Homo sapiens: one gene and its partners. The protein of the gene in region 5 purifies or fractionates together with the protein of the main gene of each other region. This does not show direct contact. Each region holds a gene or a part of one and is shown on either strand. Other genes may lie near its edges. The genes, in order: OSBPL9, CAMKK2, UBE3B, OSBPL11 and MYL4.

Evidence for each region.
Region 1: the proteins of MYL4 (region 5) and OSBPL9 purify together in Homo sapiens (affinity purification with mass spectrometry; one large-scale study listed by BioGRID and IntAct). This does not show direct contact.
Region 2: the proteins of MYL4 (region 5) and CAMKK2 purify together in Homo sapiens (affinity purification with mass spectrometry; one large-scale study listed by BioGRID and IntAct). This does not show direct contact.
Region 3: the proteins of MYL4 (region 5) and UBE3B purify together in Homo sapiens (affinity purification with mass spectrometry; one large-scale study listed by BioGRID and IntAct). This does not show direct contact.
Region 4: the proteins of MYL4 (region 5) and OSBPL11 purify together in Homo sapiens (affinity purification with mass spectrometry; one large-scale study listed by BioGRID and IntAct). This does not show direct contact.

Annotation. Positions count from the first base shown.
Region 1 is NC_000001.11:51,615,606-51,620,029, reverse strand, and holds the start of OSBPL9 (oxysterol-binding protein-related protein 9), read right to left. Parts: upstream 2,920-4,424; coding exon 2,809-2,919; intron 1-2,808. UniProt on the Homo sapiens protein: Interacts with OSBPL11 to function as lipid transfer proteins.
Region 2 is NC_000012.12:121,293,779-121,298,175, forward strand, and holds the start of CAMKK2 (calcium/calmodulin-dependent protein kinase kinase 2), read right to left. Parts: upstream 2,932-4,397; 5' UTR 2,860-2,931; intron 1-2,859. UniProt on the Homo sapiens protein: Calcium/calmodulin-dependent protein kinase belonging to a proposed calcium-triggered signaling cascade involved in a number of cellular processes. Isoform 1, isoform 2 and isoform 3 phosphorylate CAMK1 and CAMK4. Isoform 3 phosphorylates CAMK1D.
Region 3 is NC_000012.12:109,533,095-109,536,752, reverse strand, and holds the end of UBE3B (ubiquitin-protein ligase E3B), read right to left. Parts: intron 3,288-3,658; coding exon 3,195-3,287; intron 3,097-3,194; coding exon of another isoform or gene 2,917-3,096; exon of another isoform or gene 2,809-2,916; coding exon of another isoform or gene 2,689-2,808; exon of another isoform or gene 2,163-2,688; coding exon 1,971-2,162; 3' UTR 51-1,970; downstream 1-50. UniProt on the Homo sapiens protein: E3 ubiquitin-protein ligase which accepts ubiquitin from an E2 ubiquitin-conjugating enzyme in the form of a thioester and then directly transfers the ubiquitin to targeted substrates.
Region 4 is NC_000003.12:125,578,363-125,582,020, forward strand, and holds part of OSBPL11 (oxysterol-binding protein-related protein 11), read right to left. Parts: intron 1,679-3,658; coding exon 1,503-1,678; intron 678-1,502; coding exon 598-677; intron 1-597. UniProt on the Homo sapiens protein: Plays a role in regulating ADIPOQ and FABP4 levels in differentiating adipocytes and is also involved in regulation of adipocyte triglyceride storage. Weakly binds 25-hydroxycholesterol. Interacts with OSBPL9 to function as lipid transfer proteins.
Region 5 is NC_000017.11:47,219,190-47,221,763, forward strand, and holds part of MYL4 (myosin light chain 4), read left to right. Parts: intron 1-714; coding exon 715-864; intron 865-2,492; coding exon 2,493-2,574. UniProt on the Homo sapiens protein: Regulatory light chain of myosin. Does not bind calcium.

The DNA of each region.
Region 1 (4,424 bases), on a different chromosome or scaffold from region 5:
ACTCTAAAGCAAGGTCACTCTAGTTTAGTTCAGGGTTTTCAGAACCACCCTAGAATATATTAACAACCACAGAGACAGACTACAGGCCAAGTGATTTTGGAAACAAGAAATAAAGTTATGCTATTCACTGCCTTGCTTGGAAGGCTACACAACTAATTCAGATATTCTTCCTGGAAGATGTAGCTCCAAGTTATTAGCCACATGCAAATCATTAATATGTACCTTCAAATCCTTCAGAATCCGAATGGACTGAAATAATGTCATGTGTGTAGAATTCATTGCCAATATCCAATGTGTCTCCTACCTTCCCTTTTAAGTAAATATCTATCCTTTTCCCCTCTTCACTAGACCTCCTCTAATTTGAGATTGGGTATCATTTTATTTTCACAAGATGGTACAACAATTGTCTGTTGTTTCTCTGTAAGCAAATACTTCAATATCAAGGAACTAGAAAAGAAAAAAAATCTTCTAAACAGCTGTTAGTGAGAAATATGATACTTCCTTCCTCTGGCAAGGATAATATTTTAGGGAATCTAGTCTCAAAAAGAAGGATAAGCATTGAGGGGGAAAAAAGTATTTTTTTAAACCCTATATTTAGCCAGCAAGAAAAGAGATATTTGTCCAAGTATTCAAAAACTGAAAGGGCAACAAAGCAGAAAAAGGATACATGAAAAGAAGAAAAAGAGGAAAAAGGAAGATTCTTTCTGGGCTAGGCATTCCCAAGAACCTCAGCTGGGGGCCTCTCCAGTATGGTCCTAGATTCAGATCCACACAAATTTGGGATTTGTAAAGTAACTTAACTGCATAGTGTCACTCACTGAAATCACTCTATCTTGAATAGAGTTTACGGGATTTTCTGATTATCACATCTACTTAAACCCAATATTACTTTTCCTTTATCTAAGCCATGGGTTTCATAATTCCAGAGTTTTCAGGACATAATATTCAGTTGCCTCTCTTTCATGCCCACCTAAAGACAATCTTGAACAATGTGTTTAAGACTCATTAAGGTTTAGTCTTTTTCCCTTTAAAAACTATGTAGAGAAAGAAAGCTGATAGTTGAAGGATGATGAAAGTAATACTTTTACTCTTGCAAGCTTGCCTTTAGTAACTCACAACTTACACTTTTCTCCTTCCTGTAGTGAAAGCGAAGTTTAGTAGAAAAAGTCAATAATTTGGCATCCTGATTCCATCACTTAGTGCTATGTGATGTTGAGCAAATTGCTTTAAAAGCCTGGAGCCTCAGATTTCAAAACTGTAACTGGGGATATTAAATGGAGATAATGAATAACCACCTTGCAGAGTTATTAGGAGTGAAATGAATTAAAGGACTCACCAAGCTAGTATATAAGCTCCAGAGAAGAGGAACAGTGAATGTCTTTTTTACTGTCTATTCTTGCTGGCATGAAAACGCACATAGCAGCTCAATAATATTTTTTAAATGAACAAATAAATTCAGTGTCCCCTTTCTCTCATCAACCTTAATCCTTCTTCCATAATCATGTTTTTCTTTCTGTCTTCTATTATTTTCTAAAGCTTTCTGGGCATTCTATTTTGTCCTCTTATGTATTTTCTTCCCTCATATCGGCTATCGTCAACTATACACCATTCAGAGAAAGTACCTTTCTAAGTAAGTTATCTCCCTAATACCACCTACTCTCCATATCGAATGCGATGAGGGTGGAGGGGATAGTCAAAACATAAGATTCAAGGCCGGACGCGGTGGCTCACGTCTGTAATCCCAGTACTTTGGGAGGCCGAGGCGGGTGGATCACCTGAGGTCAGGAGTTCAAGACCAGCCTGGCCAACATGGTGAAACCCCGTCTCTACTAAAAATACAAGAATTAGCAGGGTGTGGTGGCGCATGCCTGTGATCCCAGCTACTAGGGAGGCCAGAGGCAGGAGAATCGCTTGAACCCGAGAGGCAGAAGTTGCAGTGAGCCGAGATGATGCCATTGCACGCCAGCCTGGGCAACAGGGCGAGACTCCGTCTCAAAAAAAAAACCACACACACACACACACACACACACACAACCACGTAAGATTCACAGCAATTCATCTACTTTTCCACGGCCACCAACTCATGTTAACAACAGTGAAGCCCTGAACCCAGAATGTAACTGTAAGGGGACACTGCACTATCACTTGTCTCTCTTCGCTGACAAGAGTCTCGCGTGTAGGAAATCCTTGGCTCTCAAAAGTTAAGGCGTCGTTTGAGCTCGCCTCCCGCTAAATAGAGGGGTGCGTCCCTTGAATGAGACACACAACCTGAACCGACTGGAGGGATTTCGGACCCCCTGGTGTTGCCCGAGGGCTGGTCACTTTTGGACCTGTCCCGGCTCCTCTGGCCACTCCTCCGAGGAAGCAGAGCTCTTCAATCCCTGGAGGGAAGCTAAGGGGTGCGGCCGGCTACAGGGCCTTGGTGGGACAGTGTAAAGTCCATGACAACATATGAAGACAGCATGAACCGCAAGACTGGACCTTTTAAGCCATGACTACGATCACCCTTACCCGCTCACAACCATGCTGGACCCCACTACCGCTTAATAGCGGACCCTAAGAAAGAAACTTGGCTCACCCCCAACCCATAAATCAGACAGCTAGTTTCTATTTATTGGCTGCGCCCCTCTCTCCCTCACCCTCATTGGCTATCCGAGACGTAAAACCCTCCCCAACAAGGGAACCCTCGCGTACGGCGGCACCCCCAGACTAGCAACCTCAACTCAGCCACCTAAAACCCCGGTCCCCCACCTCCACCCAGGAAACGCGGCCCCGAGGCGCCTGGAGCTGTGCCCTCCAAGGACTCACCGTGTAGTAGGAGAGCAGTCCTGCATTGTAGTCCAGCACGAACCAACGGTACTGCCAGCCCTTCATCACGTTAGTCCATTTGCTCAGCGGCCCTTCCATGATGGACGCCATCTTGGGAGCCGCCAATGACAACAAACGGCCTGACGTCACTCGCCTATATGGCATTCAGCATGCGGGGGGCGGGGCCGCAGGGGGCGGGGCGGGTCCTGGGCGGGTCCTGGGCGGTGCCGGCAGATGCTCCAGCGATCAAGTCAAACACGCTTTCTTAGGGCGCCTATTGTGTGTAGGACTCCATGCCACGGATGCGAGAATGCAAACGTGAATACTGCTATTAAGATTATTTATAATCTGTCATGGGATTAGAGTAAAGAAAAAAGATTATGAACATATTAATAAATAATTTTACTGGCCATGATACCTTCCACTTCCAAAAGATTTCATATCTGATATTCATTTATGCATTCATTCCACAAATCCATTCATTTAATAAATATTCGCTGTTTTGTGCTAGGCATTCTTCTAGACATTGGGGATACAACAGAGCCTTCATGACAGGTGAGGGGAATGGTAAAATAAATAGTAAATTATATCGTACATTAAAAAATCATAAATGCTATGGAGAAAAACATAAGCAAGGAAGGAGAGAGCGCTGGGACTGCTATTTTAAATTCCCAAACAGGGAAGGCCTGAGTGAAAAGGTAACTTTTAAGCAAAGACCTGAAGAAAGCGAAGGAGGGAGCCTGGTGGAAGAGCCTTCCAAGACGAAGGAATAGCAAATGCAAAGACCAAATGTTAGGAGTGAGCGTGGCATCTTGAGGGATCAACAAGGAGGTCAGTGTGCGTGGAGCAGTGAGCCAGGGAGAAAGTGGTGGGAGATAAGGTCAAAGAAGTAGGGATAGATCACTAACAGCCTACAGGGGCAATTTAAGCATTTATTGGCTGGGCGCGGTGGCTCGCACCTGTTATCCCAGCACTTTGGGTGGCCGAGGCAGGCAGATCACTTGAGATCAGGCGTTCGAGACCAGCCTGGCCAACATGGTAAAAGCCCATCTCTACTAAACATACAAAAATTATCTGGGCGTGGTGGCGCACCCTGTAGTCCTAGCTGAGGCACAAGAATCACTTGAACCTCGGAGCCGAGATTGCATCACTGCACTCCAGCCTGGGTGACAGAGCCAAATTCTCTCTCACACAAAAAAAAAAAAAAAAAAAAAAAAACCAAAGGATTTATTGACCACCTACTATATCTAGGCACTGTTGGAGGTCCTGGGAATACAGCAGTGAATAAGCTCTCTCAGAGCTTAAATTCTGTGGTGAAAGCAAACACTAAACAAGTAAACAAGAAAAATATCCAATACTGATTAACACTGCAAATAATTTAATAAATTATTTTAATAGGAAGTCAGTGGGTAGCTAATTTATAGGGGGTGGTTATAGGGCAGGCCTCTTAGGAAGTGGCTTTAAACTTAGATATGGAGGATAAGAAAAGGCCAGCCGTGCAAATATCAAGAGAAAGAGCTAAAAAGGAAACTAAAAGATGAGGCACTAGCTGGAAACGGAGGTGTGGTCAAGGGAAGGGCTTTCTTTGTCCTTTTTTAAAATTATTATTTAGATCG
Region 2 (4,397 bases), on a different chromosome or scaffold from region 5:
TCCTTCAGGGAGCCTCCCAGATTCACACCAGTCTGAGGAGATTTCTCCAGAACCCTCAGTGCCCTGTGCTCCTTCGATCACAACAGCACTCATTCCTTGTGGTGTTTCTCAACAGTGGCACTGCTGGCATTTGGGGGAGGGTGATTTTTTTTTGTTTTTTGTTTGTTTTTTGAGAGGAAGTCTCCTTCTTGTGCCCCACGCTGGAGTGCAATGGCACGATCTCAGCACACTGCAACCTCCGCCTTCCAGGTTCAAGTGATTCTCCTGCCTCAGCCTCCCAAGTAGCTGGGATTACAGGTGTGTGCCACCACGCCCAGCTAATTTTTGTATTTTTAGTAGAGATGGGGTTTCACCATGTTGGCCAGGCTGGTCTCGAACTCCTGACCTCAGGTGATCCTCCTGCCTCGGCCTCCCAAAGTGCTGGGATTACAAGCGTGAGCCACCACGCCCAGCCAGGGGAGGGTGATTCTTTATGTCGTGGCCCTGGCCTGCCTACAGGACACTTTAGTAGGCATCCCTGACTCCCGCCCACTAAAAGCCAGGAGTGCTTAGCATCATTTTGACAACCAAAAGTCGCCCCCACACTTTCCCAAATCCCTGCCAGGAGGGTGGGACCACCCCCGGATGAGAACTAGTGCATTGTTATTAGTGACTATATTTAGCTACCAGCCCACTAGCCATATCTAAGGATGGGCAGTACTACAGACCCTGCATAGAGCTGCATCGGCAAACACTGATGTAGTGAATAAACAAAACAAAACAAACTCCTGGGCTCCTCAAGAAGCTCAGGGCAGCCTTGCCAGGGTCTCTGCTCTTGAACAGGTGCACAAAGGTTCTAAGGCCTGACATGCCTGCACTGGCTGTGTGACCCTGAGCAAGTTACTTAACTTCTCTGAGCCCTTCTATAAAATGGGGCTAAATCCTAGCAACACTGCAGGATTTCTGTAAACCTCAGTCTCCTAATCTCTACTATGGGGTTAAAATTCCCTACGTTGTAGGATTTGGTAGGCATTAAATGAGATAATGCATGTAACACATAGCACAGAATCTGGCAGGCAGCAAGAACTCAATAGATGTTAGTTTTTAATACTGTTATTATTATTATTGTCCAGGGCCAGGTGGCAGCTCATGCCTGTAATCCTAGCACTTGGGAGACTGACGTAGGCGGATCACTTGAGGTAAGGAGTTCAAGACCAGCCTGACCAACATGGTGAAACCCCTTCTCTACTAAAAATACAGAAATTAGCCAGGCATGGTGGTGGGCGCCTGTAATCCCAGCTACTGGAGAGGCTGAGGCATGAGAATCGCTTGAACCCGGGAGGCGGAGGTTGCAGTGAGCCAAGATTGTGCCACTGCACTCCACCCTGGGCAACAGAGACTCCGTCTCAAAATAAATAAATAAGTATTCTTATTATTATCCAAGTTAGGGGCTCATCAAATGATGGCTATTACTCTTCATTACAAAAATATGTTTTGCGTCCTCATCACCAATGCCTGCTTCCTCCATAGGAAGGGTGTGTGTCACCAATGCCTGCTTCCTCCATAGGAAGGGTGTATGAGCAGCAGTCTGGAAGGGGTATGTGGGGCTTGCCCTAAAGCTGCATTTGCATGGCATGCACACTATTTATTCTGAAACTGCATGTTTTTGTGGGGTGATTAGGGAAGAGGGTGGCTAACTCCCCCAAAGCCCTCCCCTTGTTGCAGCCCCCGCCTCCTCCAAGGAACAAAGGAGCTTATGGGGACATAAAGCCATCCTCTTCTCTCTCCTCTGGGGGCAGAGCTAGGGGAGGGGGAGTGGTAAATGGCAGCACAGCTCTAGGGCACCTGAAGTTTCTATCCCCTGCGTGGAGACTCCAAACACCAGGCTGGGGAAGGTAAAAGTAGCCTGTAGGGAGATGGACGCTGCAGGTCCCATCCGGAGGCCAGGTATCCCTCTCTTGCTGATAGCACTGAGACGCCCTCCCCAAAGCTCAGCCTTCTCGGGGAGATCGGAGGGGCTGAGCTGCATCCTGTCCAGCACTAAGTGAGAGTGGCCAGGAGGGCAGGCTGGCAGAGCTGTGAAAGCACCCACTTCCCCAGCTAGGCAGTGCAGGGGCTGGGGGAAAGCCAGGAAAAGCTCAAGGCTGGGTCGGGTGGCACCCCAGGCACAGAGCCCCAATGCTGAGAGGGGCTGGGTCCAGTGTCCCTGAGAGTCAGGCGGACGCCTCTCCGCATTCACAGCATACTGCAACCCCGAGGTGAATTTAGGTCAGAAGGACCAAGCCTGTGAGGCTCCGGCTGAGAGAAGAGGTGCGGTGGGGGTGGTCAAAGGGCAGACCGAAGACAGCCAAAGGTCCCCTAGGTCCCCACAACTGCTGGCCTAGGGTCCTGCCACCTGGTGTCCAAGCCACCAGGGCCTGGGTTTGCCCCGAGACAGGCAGGCTGCGGGGTGGGGGTGCTCCAAGTCCGCTGGTCCTCTCTTCCCCGGAACGCTCCAGATTTCCCCACCTGTCAAACGCGAGGGGCTGGGCCTAGGCCGCCTCCACGAACCCTGACGGACCCGGCCCCCGGTGACCCCGGTTCCAAACTCCAGGACCGCCCCTGCCACCCGGACAGGGCGCGGCCCAGCCGAGGAGGCCATCCCGAGGCCCAGGGCGCCCAGAGGACGCGGGGGAAGGGCTGTCGGGGACCGTGTCCCTCCACGTGGCGGGGCGTGGGGAGGCGCACGTGGGGTCCCTCCGTGTTGGGAGCCCCAGGCCAGCCTCCGGGCTTTGTGTGCCATGCCGGCGGCGGTCCCCCGCCTCGAGAGGGAAACGGAGCGGGCGCCCGGGGCCGCGGCGGCTGCGTCCCTTGCCCCGGGCCCGGCTACCGCCAGCTCACCTGGGCTCCGCGCCGCCGCCGCCTCCCGCGCTCTGCGCCCCCAGCTCGGCTCGGCTCGGCTCAGCTTGCTCTGCGCGGCCGCGCGCTCCTCTCCTCCGCCCGGGCGGCGGGCGCGCGGGGGGCGGGGGCGGGAGGAGCCGCCCGGCTCGGCTTGGGCGCGTCGCCGCCCCGGGCAGCGCGGGGATTGGCCACGGCGGCGGGAAACCCGAAAGCGGAACCGCCCGCGCCCGCCGCGCACCGCCCCCTGCGCGCCCCCGCCGGCTCGGCCCTGCGCCGGGGAGGGGTGGGGAGGCGGGAGCCTGCAAAGACGAAAGTAGCGAAGAGGCGAAGGGCAAGGAGCAGAAAGGGAGGAGGCGAAGAACGGGGGAAGAGAGGCCCGGCCGGGAGGATCGGAGGCGGCTGGGAGGAGAGCCTGGAGGGGCGCGGAGCGCAGGAGGTGGCGCCGCAACTTTGTACCCGCTCGCCCGCGGCGCGCACCTGCCCAGGTTCTTCCCGCGGCGCCCTCGGGCGGGCCGCGCCGGCAGCGCTTGCTTTGTTTAGCCAAATGCCGGGGCTGCAGGGCGCCTCCGGGCTGACCCTGGGAAAGTTCCCCCAAGCCGGCAAGAACACCCGGGGCCCCTCCTGTGGCGACCCGGCTGCTGCCCCTGCGCTAGGCGCCGGGCGGTGGATGCGGCCTGGACTTTGGGCCACCACCGACTCGGGGGAGCCCCCTTCCGCAGCTGCCTGCCGACTGACCACTTGCTCAGGGCCGGCCCTAAAGGCTGGGGGAAGGCGTTCCTCTCCCATCCCCAGCCCACCTGGATGCACCATTGAAGTTCATTCTGGCTTTTCCAGATGGCTACTTAGATGCTTTTTGTGAAATACAGCATATTCTTCCCATTCTCCCCTTTTTGGCACTTACTTTGCTGGAGCCTTAAGTGTGCGTTGGATCCCCCAGCTGGATAACAGCACTGTGCGGGGAAGAGGAGAAACGAAGACCTGGAGGGCTCCCTGAACCGTCCTACGGGGTCGAGCGACCCAGGGGATGTCTCACTGACCCTGCCAAACAGCCAAAAGGGAATCGAGTTGACAGGAGAGTCAACCTCCAAGTTAATAAAAGGTTCAAAGCCCTCTAGTTAACTGGGTGGATTTCCAGCCCGTTCCGATGTGCTTCTCTTGTATTTCTAGGCCGTAGGGACACTCACATGCAACGAGCCAATGAGAGCTCCACCCCGACTCCCTTTTTTTTTTTTTTTTTTTTCTTTTCTGAAACGGAGTCTCGCTCTGTCGCCCACGCTGGAGTGCAGTGACGCGATCTCGGATCACTGCAACCTCTGCCTCCCAGGTTCAAGCAGTTCTCTGCCTCAGTCTCCCGAGTAGCTGGGATTACAGGCGCCGGCCACCATACTTGGCTAATTTTTGTATTTTTCGTAGAGATGGGGTTTCACCATGTTGTCCAGGCTAATCTTGAATTCCTGACCTCGTGATCCACCCGCCTTGGCCTCCGAAAGTGCTGGGATTACAGGTGTGAGTCACCGCGCCCGGCCCACTCCCATTTT
Region 3 (3,658 bases), on a different chromosome or scaffold from region 5:
TGTGAACGGTCCAGGCATATGGCGGAATGAAATGCAGAACGCAGCCATCATATGCTGAAGTACAAATTTAATAAAGCCTTTGATCACATCTCAATCCATAAGTTAGCTACAAAAACAAAAAATCCTACAACTTTTTAGAGCCATCAAGAGCCATCAAGGTGTCAGTGAACACCAGTTACAAAAGGAGATTCAGTGTTTCAGATAGTGCAATATTTCCAGCTGCTGAAAAGAATTTAAATGAAATTACAAACTACCCCTCCTTGTCAAAAATCCACATGAAGTTGATATTGGTGCTTATAAATCACTCTCTCCCAGTCCCTCACTGGTTCCAACCTTCAGGTGATAAAAATTAGGATGGGATCCATCTTCCCTGTGCTGACAGTCTGGGGTCCCCGCATGTATGCACGAACCCGCCCAGCGTGCGCACACACGTTCAGAAGAAATCTTCAAAGGAACCGAGCGTTTGGAGAAAGTGGCAAGTCCACAGAATCAGAGGTTACGAACACACCTTCAATAATATTAATACATTCCTGTCTTTAAATTCCTTGCCATGTTTCCATCAAAGTAGAGCACACACTCTTTTCCAGAAGCCTGGGGGCTCGACCTGGGTGGGACACCAGGATGCAGCTGAAACTCTGAAGGACTGTGGAGACGGGTGGCCCCTGCTTTGCTGCCACTGTGACAGCTCTTGTTGGAAAATGTTTTGCGTCTTTGAGGAGAGCAGAGGAGGGACTGGGCCTTCCTGGCTTCGAATCCGGCATCAACCTTGGTGGTGCAGGTGCAGGAGCATGAGGTGGGAGAGGGTGGGTGGCTGTCAACACAGACCACAAACAGGGCCTCTGCCTCAGTTCCCTGGAGCTAAAGTTCTTACAACAAAGGTAAAGAATGAGGGCAGAGGAACACAATGGGTTGGAAGAGAAATGAAGTTTAAAAAAAAAACAAAAAACCCAGAGGGTGTGAGCCTCTGTCAGTGCAACGGGCTTCCGGGTTCCCTGTGCTGAGGAAGGATGGGCAGCAAGACCCAAGTTTCCTGGGATTTTGCAGACTCAGGAGTGAAGCCACCGCCCAGATGGGATGTGTACCTTAGGTTAGTGTTTGTTCCTCATTAGATAACCAGTGAGACAAATAAGCAGGGTCAAAGGCAGCCGTCCTCCGCGGGACAAGCAGGCTTTGGGGAACAGGCAGCACATTCTGGAAACGGGGCTGCTGCTAAGGGCCGTTGTTTTTCTTCCCCCAAACCAGGATGCCAATGTGAATGCATAGGACGGGAATAGGTCCGGGAAGACTCTCTGGCAGCTCAGCCCGCTGAGGACGCAGAAAATGGGAGGGCCGCGGCGTGGAGCGCGTGGCTTCAAGGCAGGAGCAGCGCCTTGGACTCACGGTGTCCATAGCGTCCCTAGCAGGCGCCTGCGCTTCCCTGGGCAGCAGATGGGCCTGGCTGTCTGGGAAGAGGCGCTGTGGACGGCATGGAGGCAGAAACTTTGTGGGGTGCATAGAGGCTTGGCGAGGCCTTACCTGAGTAAGAGATTTCAGAAACGGAAGGAGAGGATCTCACGCACAGTAGGCTTTGTACACTCAACCCATGCTGCAAAAACCACTCTAGACTCTTGGAACTCCTGGGACTTGTTCATACACAGCTCACTCAGACGGCTAAGGAAAGACAGACTCCCAAAAGATCAAACTAGCTAAAAGAAGCCCCTCTGCCATCACCAGGAAGAATGGACCCGTGTTGGTGGAATCTGGAGGTTTATTTTCTGCAGCCCTGTGCCTTGGGCATCACCTGGAGATGCTGTGTAGTGCTGTCGTGGGCGTCTAAATTTCTTGAGGCCACAAGGAGTCTCATGGCTATAGAGAGGGTCTAGGGGCCAATGTCACCTGGCATGTTGGTCACATTCCCAGGACCACACTGCCTCTGGGAGCTGAAGGTCCCTGGCAGCCCAGGAGCCCTGGAGGCAGGGCTGGGACAGGAGCTAGGAGAGTTCAAAGCCCGTGTTCATGCTGATGGCGTAGCGCAGCTTCTCGCGGAGGACGCTCTTCTTGCTGTAGTTGGGCAGCTTGAGCAGGTTGAAGCAGGTGGAGGAGGTGGGCAGGCGGCCGCCTGGCTCCCGCTTGCGGATGGTGAAGAAGCCCCGGAGGACGCTGCCCAGAGTGTCCCCGGTGTCCTGAAGGCACACATCGTGGCCTTGAATTGGGAAGGGCCTAGTTTGGGAGCCCAGGCTGATGCCAAGGCCAGGGAGCCCAGGGAGGGGATCTGGCCAGTCCCTGGATGCTGGGCAGAGTGCAGGGCGCTGCCCTGGCACCACTACCCGAGGTCAAGCCCCAGACACAAGACGACTGGCTTCCAGAGAAGGAACCCCTTCTCCCTGGGGCCTGCACAGAGAATTCCTGCACTAAGTAAGCTTTTGGAAATGGGGCCTTCCGGTTCACAGCGAATTACTGGTTAACCAATTGACAAAAAGTAGAATGCTGTAAAAACTGTTAGGTGCCCAAACATTTCTGAATGCACTCCTCCCTCCTCACCGGTGCTGTGGCCGGTGGCAGACCATGACTTGGGCCAACTTTCCCTTAAGCATGGAGGCCGAGGACTGTGTAGCTTCCTGTACAAGGTGGCATCACGGGCTCAAACTGCATCATGAGAGGCAGCTACACCCAGAGGCGGCCACTGGGTTTTTATGGGGAGTAGGACTCTCATTTGAGCACCCACAGTGGGCCAGGCTTGAGACACACAGAGCTCCGTAACCCTGAAGGCTTTCCTTCTCCTTTGGCCAATGAGGAAATGAAGCAGCGAGCCTGGACGTGCACAGCCTGCTGGGGTAGGAGTAGCATTCGAGTCTGCGCCTGCCTGCCTCCTGAGCCCACTCTCTCACTTTCTCCCATGCTGCCTCAGATCTGGAGCCCTGGTGAGGCCAGACGCCACTAAAAACAGCACGTACCCACCCCCACTCCAGGTACCCTTCCCTGAGGAAGGAAAGAGAAAGGGGCTGCCGAGAGAGGGCTGAGTCCGTGGGCAGTCTCTCTGGGGCTGGCTGGTTCTCCTGCCGTGAGAACTGTGGGGCCCTCCTCACTTGGCTCTGAGGGGTCCAGCTGCCTGCCTTGCTGAGATATGGACTAGATAAGGGCCTTGCACAGTGGGCACAGCAGACAACCACCAAGAGGGAAGTCAAGGCTCTTCCCCACCCACCCCGTGGGGGTACCTGATCGTCCGACACCTCCACGCAGCGGATGGAGAATGGAGGCTTGAGGTAGGCGAATCCCAGGAGCGGGGGTCTGGAGCAGCTGGTCACGAACTGCAACACAAAGCAGGGTCAGTGGGGACGGGGCAGGCTCCTGCTCTTCCAGGACGGGCCCTTGCAGCTGTGTAGCACGTGTTTGCTCTGTCTGTTACCGTGTTGTAACTGCTGTCTAGCCAGCCGTATGGAGTGGCGGGGTGGATCTGGCCCCAAAACTGGCACACGCCGTACATCTCTCTCAAGGGTGCTGCTCTCGGGGACTAAGACACATGAAACCCATACCCAATAGGTGCGACTGGCCACTTGTGAGAGCACGTGTGACTGCAGAGTAGGAACAGCACAAATGCCCAGCCAGGGCACTGGTGAGGCGTCCCCGAGAGGCAGGTCTCCTGTGGGATTGTTAAGAGGAACAGAGCAGCAGCTGACAC
Region 4 (3,658 bases), on a different chromosome or scaffold from region 5:
TGGGAAGGAGAGAACAGGGAGTGACTGCTAGTGGCTCCGGATTTTTTATTTTTTTTGTGGGAGAGATGACAATGTTCTGAAATTAGAAAGCTGCAATTTGGCCAGGTGCGGTGGCTCACACCTGTAATTCCAGCACTTTGGGAAGCCAAGGTGGGCGGATCACTTGAGGTCAGGAGTTCGAGGCCAGCCTGGCCAACATTTTTAGTAAAGAAACAACTTTTTTTAGTAAAGAAACCTGTCTTGACTAAAAGTACAAAAATAAGCTGGGTGTGGTGGTGTGTGCCTGTAGTCCCAGCTACTTGGGAGGCTGAGACAGGAAAATCACTTGAACCCGGGAGGCAGAGGTTGCAGTGAGACAAGATTGCGCCACTGCACTCTAGCCTGGGCCACAGAGAGAGACTCCGTCTCAAAAAAAAAAAGAAAGTTACAATGGTTGAACCACCTTGTGAATATACTAAAAACCACAGGATTATACGTATATACTTTAAAAGGGTGAATTTTACGGTATATGAATAGTATCTCAATTTTAAAAGGCAAAAAATAAAAAATATTCCTTCCTCATTTTTGTATATTAATATTGTATATAAATCTACATACCTTTCCAATAGCTTCAGTATGATGCTGTGTACATATCTGAAGTCTGCTAACCCAGTGCTGTCGCTCTTTTGCATCTGTAGCTGTTAAAAGAATGTAAAAATTATTTTATATTTATTTATTCTGGAACACAATTAATTGCCTACAGTATGAAGATCAGATCACTGAAAAGCAGATACTGGTCTTACTCTCACTAGAGCAAACTTCCCTGACTGGAGGGAGGCAGGAAAGAGGCCAAAGCACCAACGTTGTTAGGGAACACAGTAGCTGGATGTAGTTACTTCATTAAAAGGAGAAATTACATGCAGTGAGGTGAGGATGAGAGACTGACATGTTGCAACTCATAAAAATAGGTTCTTATTTAAAGAAATAACCCCTTAATTATTTGATGTATAATCAATACTTTCAGATCTGCAGGAGCACGCTCACTTAGGATTACCATTATACTTTGTGTATTCATTAAATAAAAAACTTCTACACAAATTAAATTTATCTTAACAGAAGTTATACGTTATTTTAATGAATGACATTATAATAAATCCCAATAATGTACATTAGTTACTGAAAACTGCAAAAAGGGCACGTAAACTAAACCAAGTAAAGGGGTGAAATACATAAAAAATATCATTTAAAGTCTATGTTTCTAGATTTTCAGTAATCAGAGTTTCACCTACACCGTTTTTCAGAGGGGCCAGTCCTAAACAAACATACATTGTCCCACTTGAAAACAGTTACTTATTACAAAAGATTTCATAAATTCTCAAAGCAGTTCCAAGGTTCAGAATATTGTATTTACATCACTGATGACAGCAGTTTCTATTTCCAAAGCCCATATGAAAGCATGTAAGACACCAACTTCTCAAAAAAAGAGGAAAATCACAGTATTAATTCTCATATTTTGGTCATACCTCTGAGTTTATATTGTTCCCCACTGGCAGCGTTTACAGTGAAGGTGTGAGAATCCTCATCACTGGGTGATATTACAGCTCCTGCAAGCTGCAAAGTTCCTCTAGGTTTCTGATTTCTAGACTGTTCATTCACAAAGTACTCCAACAGCCCAGCTTCATTGTTTAAAACAAAAAACCTGTAATGATTTTTTAAAATCCATAATTTGTAAACATTTTCCCTCAGCAAACTAAAGCAAAGCAAACTTCAATCACTTACACATTTCAGGGTTTTGCTCTTAAAAATAAAATTTAAAAGCATTTCAAGAGGTACCTGGAAACACTACACTGAATTTTCCAGCAGGGAAGATTACTAAAAATCGAATGAGTTAGGCCAGGCGCAGTGGCTCACGCCTCTAATCCCAGCACTTTGGGAGGCAGAGGCGAGCGGATCACCTGAGGTCAGGAGTTCGAGATCAGCCTGGCCAACATGGTGAAACCCCATCTCTACTAAAAATACAAAATTAGCCAGGTGTGGTGGTGCATGCCTGTAATCCCAGCTACTCGGGAGGCTGAGGCAGGAAAATCGCTTGAATCTGGGAGGCAGCGGTTGCACTGCACTAAGATCGAGCCACTGCACTCCAGCCTGGGCAAAAAGAGCAAAACTCCGTCTCAAAAAAAAAAAAAAAAAAAAAAAAAAATTGAATGAGTTTAATAAAAGATATAATAAACCCTTCAGCTGAGGGAGAGGCATTTATTAAGAGGCCTATCAGTTAATGCACAAAAGGAAGCAAAGATACCATATCCTTTCAGAGACAGATTTTTCCCCAGAATTCATTAACAGAGGGTAAACTGCCAAAGGACAAATGGTAGTGAAAATTTTTCTTTAAAATTCACCGGAAATAAATCAAAATATGAGCTCTGAGGTTAAGGCAAGATATACTAGGCAAGATATGCATTGTGATTTAAGAATTAGTGAAATATACAACAAGAATAACAGGGTAAAAAAGATTTTGTGAATGAATCATTAAATAAGTCAAAACTAAAGATTACTTCTCCTGTTTAAAAATGAAAAAGCTGCAATTGGAGATGCTGAAACATAAGGACCTTGAAACTAAATGATGAAATGCTGATACACTCTGGAAAAGAATTTGATGAAATACTAATACACTTTGGAAAAAAAAATTCTGATTTGGTTCTAGATTAACTACTTTCAAAAATACATTTCAGAAATTCCAATTTAAGTAGTGTAATAATTTTTTTTTTTTTTGAGATGGAGTCGTGCTCTGTTGCCCAGGCTGGAGTGCAGTGGCACCACCTTGACTCACTGCAACCTCTGCCTCCCAGGTTCAAGCGATTCTCATGCCTCAGCTCCCAAGTACCTGGGATTACAGGCGCCCACCACCATGCCCAGCTAATTTTTGTATTTTTCGTAGAGATGGAGTTTTGCCATGTTGGCCAGACTGATCTCAAACTCCTGAACTCAGGCGATCCTCCCGCCTCGGCCTCCCAAAGTGCTTGGATTACAGGTGTGAGTCACCTCATCTGGCCCCTTTTTAAAAAAGGAACGCTAGGCCAGACACGGTGGCACACACCTGTAATCCCAGCACTTTGGGAGGCCAAGGCGGGTGGACTGCCTGAGCTTAGGAGTTTGAGACCAGGCTGGGCAACACGGTGAAACCCCGTCTCTACTAAAATACAAAAAACTAGCTGGGCGAGGTGGCGTGCACCTGTAATCCCAGCTACTTGGGAGGCTGAGACAGAAGAATCACATGAACCCTGGAGGCAGAGGTTGCGGTGAGCTGAGATTGCACCACTACACTGCAGCCTAGGTGACAGAGTGAGACTCCATCTCAAAAAAAAAAAAAAAAAAAAAAAAGTAACTCTAAAAAGGGCTGGATGAGTTGAGATTGCTTGAATCCAGGAGTTCGAGACCAGTCTGGCCAACATGGCAAAACCCTGTCTTTACAAAAAAAAATACAGAAATTAGATGGGTGTGGTGGTGCATGCCTGTAGCTCCAGCTACTTAGGAGGCTGGGGCAGGAGGATGATTTCAGCCCGAGGTGGAGGTTACAGTGAGCTGAGATCATGCCACTATACTCCAGCCTGGGCAACAGAGCAAGACCCTGTCTCAAAAATAATTAATTAATTAATTAATATAAAATAAAAAGTAACTCTAA
Region 5 (2,574 bases):
ACAGGCAGTACTGATAACAGCTGACTTTCCAGCGGTCTTATCACTTTGTAAAGTGCTTCCACACACTGCGACCTCCCTTTGCTCTCACAGTGACAGGCCCAGGGAGTGGGGTGTAGTTGTCACTCCCTTTGTGTGCACATGAAGCTGAGACCCAGCCCAGCTTATCCTGCACTCTGAGGCAGAGCCAAGATGAGAATTTAGGAATCCTCACTTCTGGGCCAGTGCTGTTTTCACTTGTCTGTCATTTCAGGAGTCAGGAACCTCACCTACACCAGAGCGGGATGTGTGGGTGGGAGGGGTGGAGGCCAGGGAGACATCTGAATTTTTTTTTTGTTTCAAGATGGAGTTTCACTCTGTCACCCAGGCTGGAGTGCAGTGGTGCGATCTTGGCTGACTGCAACCTCTGCCTCCCGAGCTCAAGCGATTCTCGGGCCGCAGCCTCCCAACACTGGAATTTTATAACAACGAAGCAATAGAAGAGATCCCAGTCCCAGCCCTGGAATGGGTCGTGGAGGCACCAGGCTGCTTCTTTGGTTGACAGAAGATGGGATGAGGACGGGTTCGAGGGACGGCCTGGGATAATGGACAAAGCGAAATATTGGGATATTTTAACAACCACACTCACCTGCTATTCAGCTTGGGTGGAGGCTGATTGGCCACCAGCCACCACCTTCACTGGGGATTGGAAGGTATAGCTGGGTCTTCTCTCCACAGAGTTCAAAGAGGCCTTTTCATTGTTTGACCGGACCCCGACTGGAGAGATGAAGATCACCTACGGCCAGTGCGGGGATGTACTGCGGGCCCTGGGCCAGAACCCTACCAATGCCGAGGTGCTGCGTGTGCTGGGCAAGCCCAAGCCTGAAGGTCAGTGCGGCTGCATGGCAGACCTCTCCCAGGGTCAGGCTTGCAGCCCCTTGGCTTCCTCCTTGTCCAGATCTTCTCTGCCATCTGCACTCTCTCTTCTCCTGCTTTAGCCCCTCAGGACCAGCCTCACCTACCCAGCTTACCCTAGTCCCATTTTGAGAATTTATCTAGACGTCCCCGTACTTAAGTGACCCTTGAGGAATGTAGCCTGGGCTTGTTTCCCTCACGAGGTTGGGAGCTCCTGTGGGGCATGAGCCACATTCTGTTGCCTCAGTGTCTGAGGAAGGCTGAGTGGGAATCTGGAAATCTGATAACTGATGGTTCCCACTCCCCAGCCCAGGAGCTCTCAGGAGGGGCATCTGTCACAGCACCGAGGTATCCTGTGGTGGCCATCGCGAGCTGTATTACAAACAATTTGTTTCTAATAATGGTTAGAGTACTGACGTTTGCAAATTGTTTGGTATAAATTAGAGCAGCTTCAAGATTCTTAGCTCTACGTGCTGCCTCTTTCATTCATTTGCATTTCAATAGGTTTTGGTGAGTGAGTGTTTAGAATGGTGAGTAAGTGTTTAGAAAGTGGTGCAAACGATTCTTTTGTGGCTCCTAAGTGTGATCATTGAGTGTTCATACTCATGTGAGCTGTGCCTCTGTCAATCATTACGGCAGATGAGAAGAGGTGTGAGGGAGTGTGTCCTGTTTGTGAATGTTGTCTGTCATGTGTGCCAGTCAAGTTAACAGCTGCTCTAAAACACACACACATGCTTCTCCTCAGTGGTGTTGGCACGGGGTTTGGGGTGGGGTGAGCCTCTCAGCAAGGGTGGTCTGTCTCTGGAGGCTTCCTGGGCCCCATAGTGGTTTCCTCCCCATCCCTTGGTTCTGGCCCGTCCCCCTTCTCCTCTGGCTGAAGGTAACCGCGGGGGTGAAGGATGTGGGCAGGAAAGGACCAGAGGGCTAGGGGCTTGCATCTCAGAAGTCAGAAGCAAGTCCTGTGTGCTTATAAAAGAAAGAAATGCCCACATTTGTGATATTTAAAAATAGTTTGCCTCTATTAAATTAAAGCCTTTTAAATACACTACCATGTGGGAGAAGTATGCTATTCACAAGAGAACTGTGAATTTATAAGAATTATTGATTCAGAGTAGCTTCAAGCTGTGTGGTCTAGTGATGGGACCCCATGCAGAGTGATGCAAACGTTGCTTTTTTCAATCCTGTTGGTTTGCCCCTGTGATTATAGGTCTGTCACGTCAAGGGTCTAAACTGAGTGTGAGGCCCGGGCCGCGTGGCACTTCAGACCCCTCACATCCTGCTGCTGCCACCCTCAGCTCCTCCGCTTGGCTGGCCACCTGGTGCTTAGAGGTCTGGGTGGAGGGCTCCTTTTTCCTTCCATCCTACTGCTTTCACTGAGAAAAGAGGGCCCCTGAGACCATCTCCCCAGCTCCCAGTCCCCTACCTTGCTTGGATGGGAAGCTCTGTGTCCTCTAGGAGCACTAATGGGTGTACCACCCAGAATTGGCTGCAGCCCAAGCCCTGGGTGCTGTCAGACTTGGGGTGAGGCCCCCTCTTGACCCTCTGCTCCCTTGAGCACCTGCTCACATTGATTTCTCTTTCTTTACCCTGCCTGCCTGAAGAGATGAATGTCAAGATGCTGGACTTTGAGACGTTCTTGCCCATCCTGCAGCACATTTCCCGCAACAAGGAGCAGGGCACCTA